2 separate regions of the Homo sapiens genome follow, and region 2 is linked to region 1. Evidence: fine-mapped expression QTL. Tissue or cell type: visceral fat. Region 1 holds a variant in brackets; the other region holds the start of a gene. All regions are shown on one strand. Distances are from middle to middle.

What was found. PIP is the estimated chance that this variant, and not a neighbour inherited with it, causes the effect.
Region 2: PWWP3B starts here. The variant in region 1 is fine-mapped to the expression of PWWP3B in visceral fat (GTEx, PIP above 0.99).

The regions. Positions count from the first base shown.
Region 1 is chrX:106,230,280-106,238,705 of GRCh38, reverse strand. No RefSeq gene overlaps it. Among named protein-coding and RNA genes, the nearest start is that of PWWP3B, 66 kb to the right of the region's middle. The variant C/T (reference allele first, on the strand shown) is at 4,976.
Region 2 is chrX:106,164,085-106,172,302 of GRCh38, reverse strand. PWWP3B (PWWP domain containing 3B) reads right to left here and starts at 3,998. Exons shown (of 4, transcript NM_001171020.2): 1 at 3,878-3,998; 2 at 1,164-1,291.

The DNA.
Region 1 (8,426 bases):
CATGTGGTATGTGGTTTTCTCTTCCTGCATTAGTTTGCTAAGGATAATAGCCTCCAGCCCTATCCATGTTACTGCAAAAGACATGAACTCATTTTGTTTAATGGCTGCATAGTATTCCATAATGTATATGTATGACATTTTCTTTATCCAATCTGTCACTGATGGGCATTGAGGCTGATTCCATGTTTTTGCTATTGTGAATAGTGCTGCAGTGAACATTCACATGCATGTGTCTTTATGGTAGAATGATTTATATTCCTCTGGGTATATATCTGGTAATGGGATTTCTTGGTCAAATGGTAGTTCTATTTTTAGCTCTTTAAAGAATCACCATACTGCTTTGCATAATGGTTGAACAAATTTACACTCCCACCAACAATGTATATGTGTTCCCTTTCCTCCACAACCTCACCAGCATCCGTTAGTTTTTGGCTTTTTTATTTTTTACTTCTCCACAGGTTATTGGGTTATAGGTTGTTGGTTATTTTATTTTTCCATAGGTTTGGTTACATGAATAAGTTCTTTGCTGGTTATTTGTGAGATTTGGTGCACCCATCACATGAGCAGTATACACTGCACCCTATTTGTAGTCTTTTATCCCTCACCCCCCTCCCACCCTTCTCCCCAAGTCCCCAAAGTCTGCTGTATCATTCTTATGCCTTTGCAATCTCATAGCTTACCTCCCACATATCAGGGAGAGCATACAATGTTTGGTTTTCCATTCCCGAGTTGCTTCACTTAGCATAGTAGTCTCCAACCTCATCCAGGTCACCACAAATGCCGTTAATTCATTCTTTTTCATGGCTGAGTAGTATTCCATTGTATATATACACCACGGTTTCTTTATCCACTCGTTGATCAATAGGCATTTGGGTTGGTTCCACAATTTTGCAATTGTGAATTTTGCTGCTATAAACATGTGTGTGCAAGTATCTTTCTGTACAATGACTTCTTTTCCTTTGAGTAGATACTCAGTAGTGGGATTGCTGGATCAAGCGGTAGTTCAACTTTTAGTTATTTAAGGAATCTCCACATTGCTTTCTATAGTAGCTGTACTAGTTTACATTCCCACCAGCAGTGTAGAAGTGTTCCCTGATCACTGCATCCATGCCAACATCTACCATTTTTTGATTTTTTGGTTATGGTCATTCTTGCAGAAGTAAGGTGGTATCACATTGTGGTTTTGATTTGCATTTACCTGACCATTAGTGATGTTGAGCATTTTTTCCTATATTTGTTGGCCACTTGTATATCTTCTTTACAGGATTGTCTATTGTGTCCTTAGTCCACTTTTTGATAAGATTTTTTTTTGCTGATTTGTTTGAGTTCATTGTAGATTCAGAATATTATTCCTTTGTCATATATATAGATTATGAAAATTCTGTCCCACTCTGTGGGTTGTCTGTTTATTCTGCTGCCTGTTCCTTTTGCCATGCAAAAGCTCTTTAGCTTAATTAAGTCTCAGCTATTTATCTTTGCTTCTATTGCATTTGCTTTTGAGTTATTGGTCATGAAATCCTTGCCTAAGCCAATGTCTAGAAGGGTTTTTCCAATGTTATCTTCTATAATTTTTATAGTTTCAGGTCTTAGATTTAAGTCCTCAATCCATCTTGAGTTGATTTTTGTATAAGGTGAAAGATGAGGATCCAGTTTCATTCTCCTACATGTGGCTAGCCAATTATCCCAGCACCATTTGTTGAAAAGGGTGTCCTTTCCCTTTTTTATGTTTTTGATTGCTTTGTCAAAGATCAGTTGGCTGTAAGTATTTGGGCTTATTTCTGGGTCCTCTATTCTGTTCCATTGGTCTCTCTGCCTGTTTTTATACCAGTACCAGGCTGTTTTGGTGACTATGGGCTTATAGTATAGTTTTAAATCAGGTAGTGTGATGCCTCTAGATTTGTTCTTTTTGCTTAGTTTTGCTTTAGCTATGTGGGCTTTTTTTGGTTCCATATGAACTTAAAAATTTTTTTTCTAATTCTGTGAAGAATGATGATGGTATTTTAATGGGGATTGCATTGAATTTGTAGATAGTTTTTGGCTTATGGTCATTTTCACAATATTGATTCCACCCATTCATGAGCATAGGATGTGTTTCCATTTGTTTGTGTCATCTATGATTTCTTTCAGCAGTGTTTTGTAGTTTTCCTTGTAGAGGTCTTTCACCTCCTTGGTTAAGTATATTCTTAAGTATTTTAATCTTTTTTGAAGTTATTGTAAAAGGGGTTGAGTTCTTGATTTGATTCTCTGCTTGGTCCCTGTTAGTGCATAGAAGAGCTACTGATTTGTGTACATTATTCTTGTATCCAGAAACTTTGCTCAATTGTTTTATCAGTTCTAGGAGCTTTCTGGAGGAGTCTTAGGGTTTTTGAGGTAACCTATCATATCGTCAGCAAACAGTGACAGTTTGACTTCCTCTTTACTGATTTGGATGCCTTTTATTTCTTTCTCTTCTTTGATTGCTCTGGCTAGGACTTCCAGTACTATGTTGAAGAGGAGTGGTGAGAGTGGGCGTCCTTGTCTTGTTCGAGTTCTCAGAGGGAATGCTTTTAATTTTTCCCCATTCAGCGTTATGTTGGCTGTGGGTTTGTCATAGATAGCTTTTATTACATTGAAGTGTATCGGGGGAACCTGCCCCCAATATTTCAACATAGGTCCTTTCTATTTTCCCTAAGTGTGAGCCAGTATGAGAAATAAAGAGAAAGAGCACAAAGAGAGGAATTTTACAGCGGGGCTGCCGGGGGTGACATCACATATCGGTAGGTCCATGATGTCCACCTGAGCTGCAAAACCAGCAAGTTTTTATTAGGAATTTCAAAAGGGGAGGGGGTGTACGAACAGGGAGTAGGTCACATGCTTCAAGGGGCAAAAGGCAGAGCAAAGATCACATACTTCTGAGGAAACAGGACCAGGGCGAAATCAGAAACTCTTGATAAGGGTCTATGTTCAGTGGTGCACGTATTATCTTGATAAACATCTTAACAGAAAACAGGGTTCGAGAGCAGAGAACCGGTCTGACCTCAAATTTACCAGGGCTGGGGTTTCCCAATCCTAGTAAGCCTGAGGGTACTGCAGGAGACCAGGGCATATCTCAGTCCTTATCGCAACCGCATAGGACAGACACTCCCAGAGCGGCCATTTATAGACCTCCCCCCAGGAATGCAATTCTTTTCCTAGGGTCTTAATATTATATTCCTTGCTAAGAAAAGAATTTAGCAGTATCTCTCCTACTTGCACATATGTTTATAGGCTCTCTGCAAGAAGAAAAATGTGACTCTTTTTGCCTGACCCCTCAGGCAGTCAGACCTTATGGTTGTCTTCCCTTGTTCCCTAAAATCGCTGTTATTCTATTCATTTTCAAGGTACACTGATTTCATATTGTTCAAACACACATGTTTTATGATCAATTTGTACAGTTAACACAATTATCGCAGGGTCCTGAAGTGACGTACATCCTCAGCTTACAAAGATAACAGGATTAAGAATTTAAAGTAAGACAGGAATAAGAAATTATAAGAATATTATTAGGGAAGTGATAAACATCCATGAAATCTTCACAACTTATGTTCTTCTACTGTGGCTTCAGCCAATCCCTCCATTTGGGGTCCCTGACTTCCCGCAACAGAAGCATGTCCTTTGTATGCCGATTTTGCTGAGAGTTTTAATCATAAAGGGATGCTGGATTTTGTCGAATGCTTTTTCTGCATCTATTAAGATGATCACGTGATTTTTGTTTTTAATTCTGTTTGTGTGGTGTATCACATTTATTGACTTACATGTGTTAAACCATCCCTGCATCCCTGGTATGAAACCCACTTGATCATGGTGGATTACCTTTTTCATATGTTGTTGAATTTGGTTAGCTAGTATTTTGTTAAGGATTTTAGCATTTATGTTCATCAGGGATATGGGTCTGTAGTTTTCTTTTTTGGTTATGTCCCTTTCTAGTTTTGGTATTAGGGTGATGCTGGCTTCATGGAATGAATTAGGGAGTGTTCCCTATTTCTCTATCTTGTGGAATAGTGTCAGTAGGATTGGTACCAATTATTGTTTGAATGTCTGGTAGAATTGTGCTGTGAATCTGTCTGGTCCTGGACTTTTTTTTGTTCTTGTTGGTCATTTTTAAATTACCATTTCAGTCTGGCTGCTTGTTATTGGTCTGTTCAGGGTATCTAATTCTTCCTGAGTTAAGGTAGGAGGGTTGTATTTTTCCAGAAATTTATCCATTTCTTCTAGGTTTTTTAGTTTATGTGCATAAAGGTGTTGACAGTGGCCCTGAATGATCTTTTGTATTTCTGTGGTGTCAGTTGTAATATCTCCCGCTTTGTTTCTTACTGAGGTTATTTGGATTTTCTCTCTTCTTTTCTTGGTTAATCTTGCTAATGATCTATCAATTTTCTTTATCTTTTCAAACAACTAGCTTTTTGCTTCATTTATCTTTTGTATTTGTTTGTTTGTTTCAATTGTATTTAGTTCTGCTCTGCTCTTGGTTATTTCTTTTCTTCTGATGGGTTTGGGTTTGGTTTGTTCTTGATTCTCTAGTTCCTTGAGGTGTGACCTTAGAATGTCAGTTTGTACTCTTTCAGTCTTTCTTTCTGACGTAGGCATTTAGGACTATGAACTTTCCTCTTAGCACCGTGTTTGCTATATCCCAGTGGTGTTGATAGGTTATGTCATTTTCCAACTCCTATTTCCTTACATTCAGGGAAAATCTCCCCCAAAATTTTTATTAATTTAAGAGTTCTGTTCAGCATTAAAAGGACAAGGGTGGCAGAGCCTCCAAAACGTAAATTTAAAGAAGATAATCTTAAATATTTTGATGGTTAAATTTATTTGTCAACTTGAATGGGCCATGAGGTGCCATATATTTGGTTAAACGTTATTTATAGGTGTGTTTGTGGATAAAATCAACATTTGAATTGATAGACTGAATAAAGCAGATTGCCCTCCCTGATGTGGGTGGGCTTCCTCTTATCAA[C/T]TGAAGAACTAAATGGAATAATAGTCTGTGTATGAAAGAATTATCTCTCTTTCTGCCTTACTACCTCAGGCTGGGACACCAGTCTCCTTCTCTGGACTTGAAATAGAACTTACAATATCAGGTCTTCTGATTCTCATGCCTTGGGATTAGAACTAGCACTATATAGTTGGCTTTCCTAGGTCTCTAGCTTGCATGCTGCAGATAAGCCTATTCCTTATAGTCAGCTTATATATATGTAATATTTTATATGTTACAATATATACTACAATGCATTATATGTACTATTTAACATAATACATATTATTAATATATTAATAATACATATTATATTAAATAGTATATATAATCTAATAAACTGTATATTATATATAAATTAAATTATATATTATATTACATATTATACATAATTATAATATGTAACATATCATATACCATTTATATTATATTACAATATATAATCTATATTATATATTATATAAAATATATATATCATTTATATTATAATATATAGTATATAATATATATTATACTTTATATATATTATATATTATACTATAATATATAATATATATAGTATATATTATATATTTTATATAATATATAGTATATTTATATGTAATATAGACTATATATTACATATAAATTTAATACCTAACATATACTATATATTACATATAAATATAATATCTAACATGTACTATATATTAGATACAAAATATAATATCTAACATATACTATATGTTAGAGACAAATATATCTAACATATACTATATGTTAGAGACAAATATATCTAACATATACTATATGTTAGAGACAAATATATCTAACATATACTATATGTTAGAGACAAATATATCTAACATATACTATATGTTAGAGACAAATATATCTAACATATACTATATGTTAGAGACAAATATATCTAACATATACTATATGTTATATATAAATATAATATCTAATATATACTATATGTTATATATAAATATAATATCTAATATATACTATATGTTATATATAAATATAATATCTAATATATACTATATATTATATATAAATATTTCTAATATATACTATATATTATATATAAATATATCTAATATATTATATTTATATTTATATTATATTTCTATAATATATAAATGTAATATATAATTATATAATATATAATATAAATATAATTATATAATATATAATATGTAAATATTATATATTATATAATTATATATTATATATATTATATTATAGTATATTATATATTATATAATTATACATTATATATATTATACTATAGTATATTATATATTATATATATTATATAATATTATATACTATATAATTATATATTATATATATTATATTATATTATATATTATATAATTATATATGATATAATTATATATTATATAATATAATATATTATATTATAATTATATTGTAAAAATATTATATTATAATTATATTGTTATATATAATATATAGCATATATTACATATATTATATTTATAAAGTATAACATAAATATAAAGTAAGGTGGTATTGCATTGTGCTTTTGATTTGCATTTCCCTGATAATTAGTGATGTTGCACATTTTTTCCGTATGCTTTTGGCCATTTGTATATCTTCTTTTGGGAATTGTCTATTCACGTCCTTAGCCCACATTTTGAGGGGGTTGTTTGCTTTTTTCTTGCTGATTTGAGTTATTTGTAGATTCAGAATATTAGTTCTTTTTCGGATATATAGATTGTGAAGATTTTCTCCCCCTTGATGGGTTGTTTGTTAACTCTGCTGATTATTGCTTTTGCTGTTCAGAAGCGTCTTAGTTTAATTAAGTCCTATCTATTTACCTTTTTTTTTTTGCATTTGCGTTTGAGTTCTTGGTCATGAAGTCTTTGCCTAAGTCAATGTCTGGAAATATTTTCCTGATGCTGTCTTCTGTACTAGAATCTAGATGGTTTTAGGTCTTAGATTTATGTCTTTGATCCATCTTGAGTTGATGTTTTGCATAAGGTGAGAGATGAGGACCCAGTTTCGTTCTTTTACAGGTGGCTTGCCAATTATCCCAGCACTATTTGTTGAATAGGGTGTCCTTTCCCCCATTTTAAGTTTTTGTTTGCTTCTTCAGAGATCATTTGGCTGTTAAGTATTTGGCTTTATTTCTGCGTTCTCTATTCTGTTCCATTGGTCTATGTGCCTATTTTTTTTATACCTGTAGCATTCTGTTTTGGTGACTATAGCCTTATAGTATAGTCTGAAGTTGGGTAACGCAATGCCTCCATATTTGTTCTTTTTGCTTAGTCTTGCTTTGGCTATGTGGGCTCTTTTTTGGTTCCATATGAATTTTAGAACTGTTTTTCTAGTTCTGTGAAGAATAACAGTGGCATTTTGATGAGAATTGCCTTGAATTTGTAGATTGCTTTTGGCAGTGTGGTCATTTTCACAATATTGATTCTACCCATCCATGAACACGGGATATGTTTTCATTTGCTTGTGTTATCTATGATTCCTTTCAGCAGTTTTTTGTAGTTTTCTTGTAGAGGTCTTTCACCTCCTTGATTAGGTATATTCCTAAGTATTTTAACTTCAATTTTTTTTTACAGCTACGTGAAAGGGGTTGAGTTCTTGATTTGATTCTCAGCTTAGTCGCTGTTGGTATGTAGCGGAGCTACCGATTTGTGTACATTAATTTTGTATTCTGAAACTTTGCTGAATTCATTTTCCAGTTCTAGGAGCTTTTTGGATGAGTCTTTAAGGTTTTCTAGATATACAATCATGTCATTGACAAACAGCAATAGTTTGATGTTCTCTTTACTGATTTAGATGCTTTTTATTTCTTTCTCTTGTCTGATTGATCTGATGAGTACTTCCAGTACTATGCAGAATAGAAGTGGTGAAAGTGGGCATCCTTGTCGTGTTCTAGTTCTCAGGGGGAATCTTCTCAACTTTCCCCATTCAGTATAATGTTGGCTGTGGGTTTGTCATAGATGGCTTTTATCACCTTAAGGTATGTCCCTTCTATGCCAGTCTTGCTGAAGGATTTATTCATAAAGAGATGCTGGATTTTGTCAAATGCATTTTCTGAGCCTATTGAGATGATCATGGGATAGTTGTTTTTAATGCATGACTTTCAGCAATGAACAGATTATCCAGACGGAAAAACAATAAGGAAACATTGGACTTAAACCACACTTTAGAACAAATAGACCTAACACAGAGATATACAGAATATCCCATCCAACTGCGGCAGAATACACATTCTTCTCAAGTGCACATGCAACATTCTCCAGGATAGATCATATGTTAGCAACAAAACATGTCTTAACAAATGTAAGAAAAATGAAATCATATCAAGCATCTTTTTTGAGCACAATAGTATGAAACTACAAATCAGTAACAGGAGGAAGACTGGGAAATTCAAAAATATCTGGAAATTAAACAACACACTCCTGAA
Region 2 (8,218 bases), 66 kb after region 1:
TGTTACCATAAGCTAAGGTTAATTTATTATTAAAAAAATATTTTTTTTTATAAATTTAGTGTAGCCTAAGTGTTCAAGCTACAGTAGTATACATAATATTCTAGGCCTTCACTTTCACTCACCACTCACTCACTGACTTACCCAAAGTAACTTCCAGTCCTGCAAGCTCCATTCATGGTAATTCCCCTATACAGGTATACCATTTTTTGTCTTTTATGTCATATTTTTACTGTAACTTCTCTATATTTAGATATGTTTGGATATACAAATACTATTATAATGATAATAAATGACTGTTATTGGTTTATGTACTTACTATACTTTTTAATCTTATTTTAGTATATTCCTTCAACTTAGAAAAAAAAATGTTAATCGTAAAATAGGCACAGAGCAGGTCTTTCAGGAGGTATTCCAGAAAAGGGCATTGTTATTCTAGGAGACAACAGCACCATGTTGTAGGCAGTTGTGTTGCAACTGCCTACAGTATTCAGTATTCACCACTGTAGGCAGTTGTGTTGCAACTGCTTATAGTATTCAGTACAGTAACATGGTATACAGGTTTGTGGTATAGGAGCAATAGGCTATACCATATAGCCTAAGTGTGTAGTAGGCTATACCATATAGCCTAAGTGTGTAGTAGGCTATACCATCTAAGTTCGTGCAAGTACACTCTATAATGTTCTCAGATAAAATCGCCTATTGAAGCATTTCTCAGAATATGTCCCCATCGTTAAGCCATGCATGACTGTACAGGTGATTCAAGAAGGTCATAAGACCTTAAGCAGGTTCTAAGAAACCTTTATAACTATGTTATCTAGTTTATGGTATGACAACCTAGTATAGTTGTCAAGGACTACAGAGTCAGGCCTCAGGGAGACACCTGCATAGCCTCTTGCATGATTTCTTCATAGTGGTATAATATATGGATTCTTTCCAAAAACTAGAAGTTATGACTTTTAATTACAAACATGATAGCTGTAGAACAGGAAACAAAATGAAGTACACCCCAAATTCTCAACCTAACATAATCCTTACATGAAATGTGGCTTTTAATTTAAAATGCTATGATGACTGTAGAGCCGGAAGCAAAATACATTGTTCTCCAAGTTCTCAACATGTTTATACCGTGAAATGTTTTGTGAAATGGGAAGAGTCTTACTCACTGTTACATGGATACTGCTGGGTCTGGTCCTGTGGTCCAGCTGTCTTGATTCTCACTCCAGCTGCTTGTCCAGCAGGGTCTTTACCTGGCTCAGCACTTCTGTGGTTGACCTGTCTTTCTGGGGCTCGGCTGGCAGGGAATCAAACCAATGAAATGGAAAAGGTGTAAATAAATTTCCCTACCTAAACTCTAACAGGCTGTCATTCCAAAACACAGGAATGAGGCAAAATCTCATCTGTGATGTAGATGCCATCTATTTTCCTTCATGTTATTATAATATGAAATGCTCTCTGGGTCAGTTATGTTATTTCGTTCATGCTAAAATCATATCCTTCAGGAAAATTATGAGGTGGAGAAAAGAGAGAAGGGAAAGAACAATTGACTTGTTTCTACTATGGGCCAGACTCTATGTAGCAGCATTTTTTATGATTTCTGTGTGAGTCTTCATGTCAGTTATTGGTGGGGATTTTTCTTCTAGATATTTATAATATTTTGAATGGAATTTCAATCACACTCTACATGCTGTCTCATAGTCGGCTAATACAAAACATATTTCATTGCTTTGTCCACTTCATAAAAATATTTGCCTGGACAAAGCTTAGTAAACCTGGCAAGCACCATCTTGTGACCAGAACCAGAACTGCAGACACTCAGGCTTCTAGAATTTTTCATTCTCAGTTTAAGAGTTCTGTGCATGTGTTATACAAAAATGGGATCATAATGTTCTCATTTTAATATTTTTCATCATAATATCTCTCATGCAAATTGTATATATCTTTCTACATCTTTTGGATTTCCAAAGAAGAAAGGAAATCTCCACAACAATGGTCAAAATGTAATGGTTTGCTCTGTATATTTCTAGATTTTTTTCTGTAGAGACTTACCAATGTGGAAGCTTTTTGAAACTAGACCCTTTATTCCTCCAGTAATATATTTGAACATCTTTCCATATCAATAATTATTTTCCATATCATCTTTTTGTGAATTGCTTTACAAAATTTTTTCCACATTTCTAAAATTTTATGTTTTTCTCATGATGAAAATTATTCAGGCTTGCTCTTTTCAAAATGAAATTTTTAAAATGGGGAAATGTAATACATAGAAGGTTAAAATATTCTGTCTATTAATTGGAGATATGTGTGGAGATATAAGAACACTTATATCTCCAATTAATAAAGTGGCATGTATTATTTCCAGATTTCTCCAATTAATAAAGTAGCATGTATATTTCCAGGTTTTTATTGCATACACTGTACGAATGCATGCACATTCTTTTTGGTAAACAAATAGGATTACATGATACAGGCCATTCTTCAATTTGCTTATTTTTAGAAACTACCTTGGACATTTACTCTAATCATTGCATTTAGAGTTAACTCATTCCTTTTACAGCTGCGTAGTATTCAACATTATAGATATACTATCCTATATGACTATGTCATAATATGTTTAAAACATTTTACGAATTATTCCTCAGGAGTATAAAGATAAATATGTTCTGCTTGAACCAGAGTCTGGACTATAGCCTCAATAGTTGAATTGCAAGAAAAGCACAAGCAATCAGGTAATGAGCCTTCTCAGACCCATAGAAAAATCCTACTGCAGCTAAAGACAATGGAATGTGTGTGTGGCTATTTGCTCAAGTGTCTGTAACAAAAGTGATTATTCCCTTTTCAGCTCCATTATCGTTTCCAAAAGAATCTAAAAGTACATAAAAATCTAAAGATGAAAATACACATCATCAGTACTCAAACCCTGAGTTGTTCACGGCATACATTTGATGTCTAATCCTTTTTATTTTTTTCCTCATCACATACATGTTTGAATATACTATTTAAAATTACATTTATTTAGCCACATATTTGAACACCTTTCCCTGTTTATATATGAGTTTACGCTATTTTGGGGAAAGTAGCTTTTCCCCATGATTTTAAGTTCTCATCTCAGTTTCTATGCCGACATAGAAACTACATGCTAAGTAAAATGTGGAAGAAAGAAGTGGAAAATTTCCTCCTTTTTCCCCTGACATCCTTTTTTATCAGGCATCCTTTATTACTAAGTATATTGTTTGTTGTGTTTTATTATACTAATGCACGTCTGTTATTGTTATGATCTTTTAGATTTTTTCCATTGCAGTACAAATAGGAATGTACAATTCTCTTGAGAGATAGGTAGAAGTACAGACAAAGATCATATTTTGCACATTATTTAAAAAGCTATTATATTAAGTCATTGTGTATCCCTTGACAAATAACCAAACTAATTCTCAGAGATACTCGAATTTGCACAGTTATGCATTACTTTAAATTACTAACATACTCCACCAAAACAGTAAGATTTGTTAGAAACACAACACATTCAAAGTAATATAAAAAACCAACATCCCCAACAACTTAATTTTTCATTTAAGACTATTACAACCTTTTTCAAAATAAGGAAGATTAAACTCCCAAGTTTTGTTTCATCATTTATCTCAGCCACCACTGCCTTTTGATGGAAACATAAAATGCTCTATTAAAAAGTTAGCTTTTGCTACCTCTTTAAGAATATTTTTCCACAGGTGTAATGTTGATTACCACCTCCCCGACTGTGGACTTTTAAAATAATCTGAAGGAACACAAAACACAGATATTAATTCCCTCACAGAAACAACGACCCTCACAGAACGACACTCCTTTCCCGTTATTCCTAAGCAGCACTCTCTTCTTTTCTCACCTTTATTCCAAATCTTCGAGAACTCTCTGAAAATAACTAGCATTTACGACAGCCATTACCTCCAAGCTTCTCCACGGAAGCCTCCGAAGCCTGTGTGTAATGCAGCTCCTCCCCGAAGACTGGCTGGGCGCAGCTTTCTTCCAAGCTCCTAGAGGATGCTCCGCCCCCTCTCCGTGATGGGGAAAGCACGAGGTTCTTCCTTCGCTTAGGAGAAAAATGACCAACTTAAACCGAAATACAGTTAAAGGGAAGAAATGTTCCTCTTAAAGTACTTTAAAGTGTAATGGTAACCTATGTCTGTTCAATTTCCATTCAACCCCCTAGGATAGGTGTTTTAATGGAAAAAGAGAAGCAACAGCAAATCTCTTTTTCATATAATAAAGATGTGGTTAAAACGTTCCTTACATATATTTTTTCTGATCCTCTTTTGTACTTTATTTCTGGTAAATTTAAGACCTACTGGCCAAACTTCACAAAAAAACATACGCTAAGTATTTTGATTTGGATTACAGTGAATTAATACTTTATTTTAGGTAGAATTAATTCTTTACAATTTTGAATCTGAACCTGGGACATAATATATCTCTCCTTTTATTCAAGTTTCTTATACTTCTTTCCTTAGGTCATTTCCAAAGAAAAATCCTCAGACAAAATCTGATTATACTGAAATTGAAAAAAAAAATGTATTAAGCGTAAAATCACCATAGGCCAAGTTAAAAAATCAGCCGCAAACTTAGGAGTGCTTTTCAAGTGCTTTTGTTTGTCCATATGATTAGATAAACAAAAATATACCCAAGCTAGTTCTTTCATTTCAATAAGAAAGAAATGAACAACAAAGTAGAGAAAGGGGCAAAGAACACAAGCAGAGAATTCCCAACGTCCTTCCCTATTCCTGATATTCACTTCACTGTGAAGAAATCTCAAAGCAGTGTAACTTGAAGGCTCTCTGCGTCTTCTAGACTAGAGAAATATGCTTCTAGGCTGATGGATAGGTTTCCTTAAGTCTGGAGTTCTGTTAGTCTCATTTCACTCTCACAAGCAAAGTCCTGCAATTTATCTTCCCCTCTTAATAAAGCTGACAATTTTGGTTTCATCTGCTATTCAACTTATTTTTACCACATTTTCTTCATTATTTTTAAGATATGACAATTGTAAACTTTTTGTACCCACGAGATTACCTCAAAATGTATAATAATGCAAAAATGGATAGAAATACATTATTGGGCAAGTAAGAAAAATTTGATTAGCTCTTATAGAAGTAAAAGGAACTGGTGGTCAGTGCCTCCTCCTGAGGCTCTTTTACCTACAAAGTACTTTGATCTCTCCCAGATTAATGTCTGTTTATTTTGGTCTTGGAATGTGATTTTTTTGTACAATTGACAAAAATTATATATATTCAAGATGGGTAATGTGATGATTTGATATATGTGTACACTGTGAAATGATTACCACAATCAAGCCAGGTAACATATCCATCACCTCACATAGTTACCATTTCGTGTGAGATGAGAACGCTTTAGATCTACCTTCTTAGCAAATTTCAAATATACATTACATATTATTAACTACAGTCACCTTTTCATGTACCTTTTGACCATTTGCACATTTTCATTGGAAAAAATAACTACCCAGTGTCTTTTACTCATTTTTAAAATCAGGTTACTTGCTAGTTTTTTCTTGACATTGAGTTTTATAAGTTTCTTATTGTGGGTATTAATTTTATAAGTTTCTAATTGTGGATATTGACTCCTTATTGGATGCATGGTTTGCAAATATTTTCTCCCATTCCATGGGTTACCTTTTCATTCTGTTGATTATTTTCTTTGTTGTGCAGAAACTTTAGTTTGATGTAGTCCCACTTGTTTATTCATGTGATTTCTAATAGCAAGTTATCTCAAAAGCTCTGATATAATTTCAAAGCTCAAAGCTTCTCAGTATTGCAGCTCTATAAAAACCGCTTCTGTTCATGAAACATTCTGCAAAATTGTGGGACAAATTCTGCTAATGTGTAACAAGGACATAATACTAAGAATAATAGTTTATTGAAATATAACAACATCAAGAACAGAGAACTGATAAACTGTGTTCTATAAAGTCACAAGACCTTGAGAAACATTGCTATCCAGAATGAAAAGACTCTACTCTAAAGTGTCGCTTTTTTATTATTGTTGACATCAGTTTTATTTTCTTTGGTATTAAAAAGTGCTCTAAAAAACCAGTGGTTGCACCACTTAGAATGGCAATCATTAAAAAGTCAGGAAACAACAGGTGCTGGAGAGGATGTGGAGAAATAGGAACACTTTTACACTGTTGGTGGGACTGTAAACTAGTTCAACCATTGTGGAAGTCAGTGTGGCGATTGCTCAGGGGTCTAGAACTAGAAATACCATTTGACCCAGCCATCCCATTACTGGATATATACCCAAAGAACTCTAAATCATGCTGCTATAAAGACACATGCACACGTATATTTATTGCGGCATTATTCACAATAGCAAAGACTTGGAACCAACCCAAATGTCCAACAATGATAGACTGGATTAAGAAAATGTGGCACATATACACCATGGAATACTATGCAGCCATAAAAAATGATGAGTTCATGTCCTTTGTAGGGACATGGATGAAATTGGAAAGCATCATTCTCAGTAAACTATCGCAAGAACAAAAAACCAAACACCGCATATTCTCACTCATAGGTGGGAATTGAACAATGAGATCACATGGATACAGGAAGGGGAATATCACACTCTGGGGCCTGTTGTGGGGTGGGGGGAGGGGGGAGGGATAGCATTGGGAGATATACCTAATGCTAGATGACGAGTTAGTGGGTGCAGCGCACCAGCATGGCACATGTATACATATGTAACTAACCTGCACAATGTGCACATGTACCCTAAAACTTAAAGTATAATAAAAAAAATAAAAATAATAAAAAATAAAAAATAAAAAAAACCAGTGGTTGTAGAACATAAACATACCAAAGTATAAAATGTTGAAAATACCAAATATTGGTAAGGATAAGGAGCAATTGGAAGGTTCATACACTTTTTACAGAAATGTAAATTGGAACTCACATTTTGGGAACTGTTTTGGCACTATTTGCCTAAAGCTGAGCATTATAGAGGTTAAGAGAGAACCATCTAGTGCGTTAAGTAGCAGAGTGGAATATCTAAATTGGTAATAGAGAAATGGTCTCCACAGAGACCTATGGGTACCCAGATGATCCAGTGGGACATAGAAAGTAAATGTTTAAAATTCAATTTCTTTCATTTTGATTTATTTTATAAGCTTCTACTTATAAATATGTTAAATGCACATAATAAATACTATAATGTATTACATACTTTATAAAAATATCGAACAATTGGGAGGTGTCAAATTTTTTTTACAATGGTGATAAAAATATATGTGGACATCCCTGCTTTATGGCACTCACACCCCACATAGCCTTCCCACTTGTCCTTTCCCAAACCATTTGCATGGTTTGGGATTATTTTCTCATAAAAGACTAATTAAGCTGAACTTGCTAAATTTCCTGTATACTGTTTTCACTGCTCAGGTAAGCTAACGTTACTCTCATTAAATGTTTAAGGTAATCATGAGAAACTGAATTACAGTAAGCCATGTCTTTGCAAAATGATTGGTTCTCTCAAACTTCAGGTAAAGCCACAAAATATGTGGGTATACAGTTATTCTATTTGGACTATGTAAGTGTTTTCACTGTAATATTATAAAGCCAAAATTCTTTGTTTTAAGTTCAAGGGTACAAGTGCAAGATGTGCAGGTTTGTTACATAGGTAAATGTGTGCCATGGTGGTTTGCTGCACCTGTCAAACTATCACCTAGGTTTTGAGCCCGGCTTGCATAAAACCAAAATTCTAATACCAACAGTGAGTGTATTTTTCTTTAACGTCAACCTAAATTTAATTTCTTAGTTCTGTAATTGACTTTGAGACCTTGAAAATAATGAGTAAATTTTTTTGGATATCTGGACAATTCCTAAGAAAATCAGAATTCATAAACACAAAGCATCAAACATACCAAATTCCAATTAACAATTTTTATTTAGATTCTTACTTACATATAAAAGTATTTTTATAAAGCTCAAAATAAAACAGTAAAATCAATATTGTATGTGTATCATCTACTAATATGTTGAGAGGTTAATTGTATTTTAAAGCTCATATTTACACCTTTCTATGATATGTGTTTATGTGTGTGTATTTGGGTCTGTGTTTAAATATACACATATAATGGTACATTAATTTAAATAAGAGTAGTTTAGGAACAATAGAGAGGATTAAATTAAAATGAATAATGATTTTAGAACATGTAATC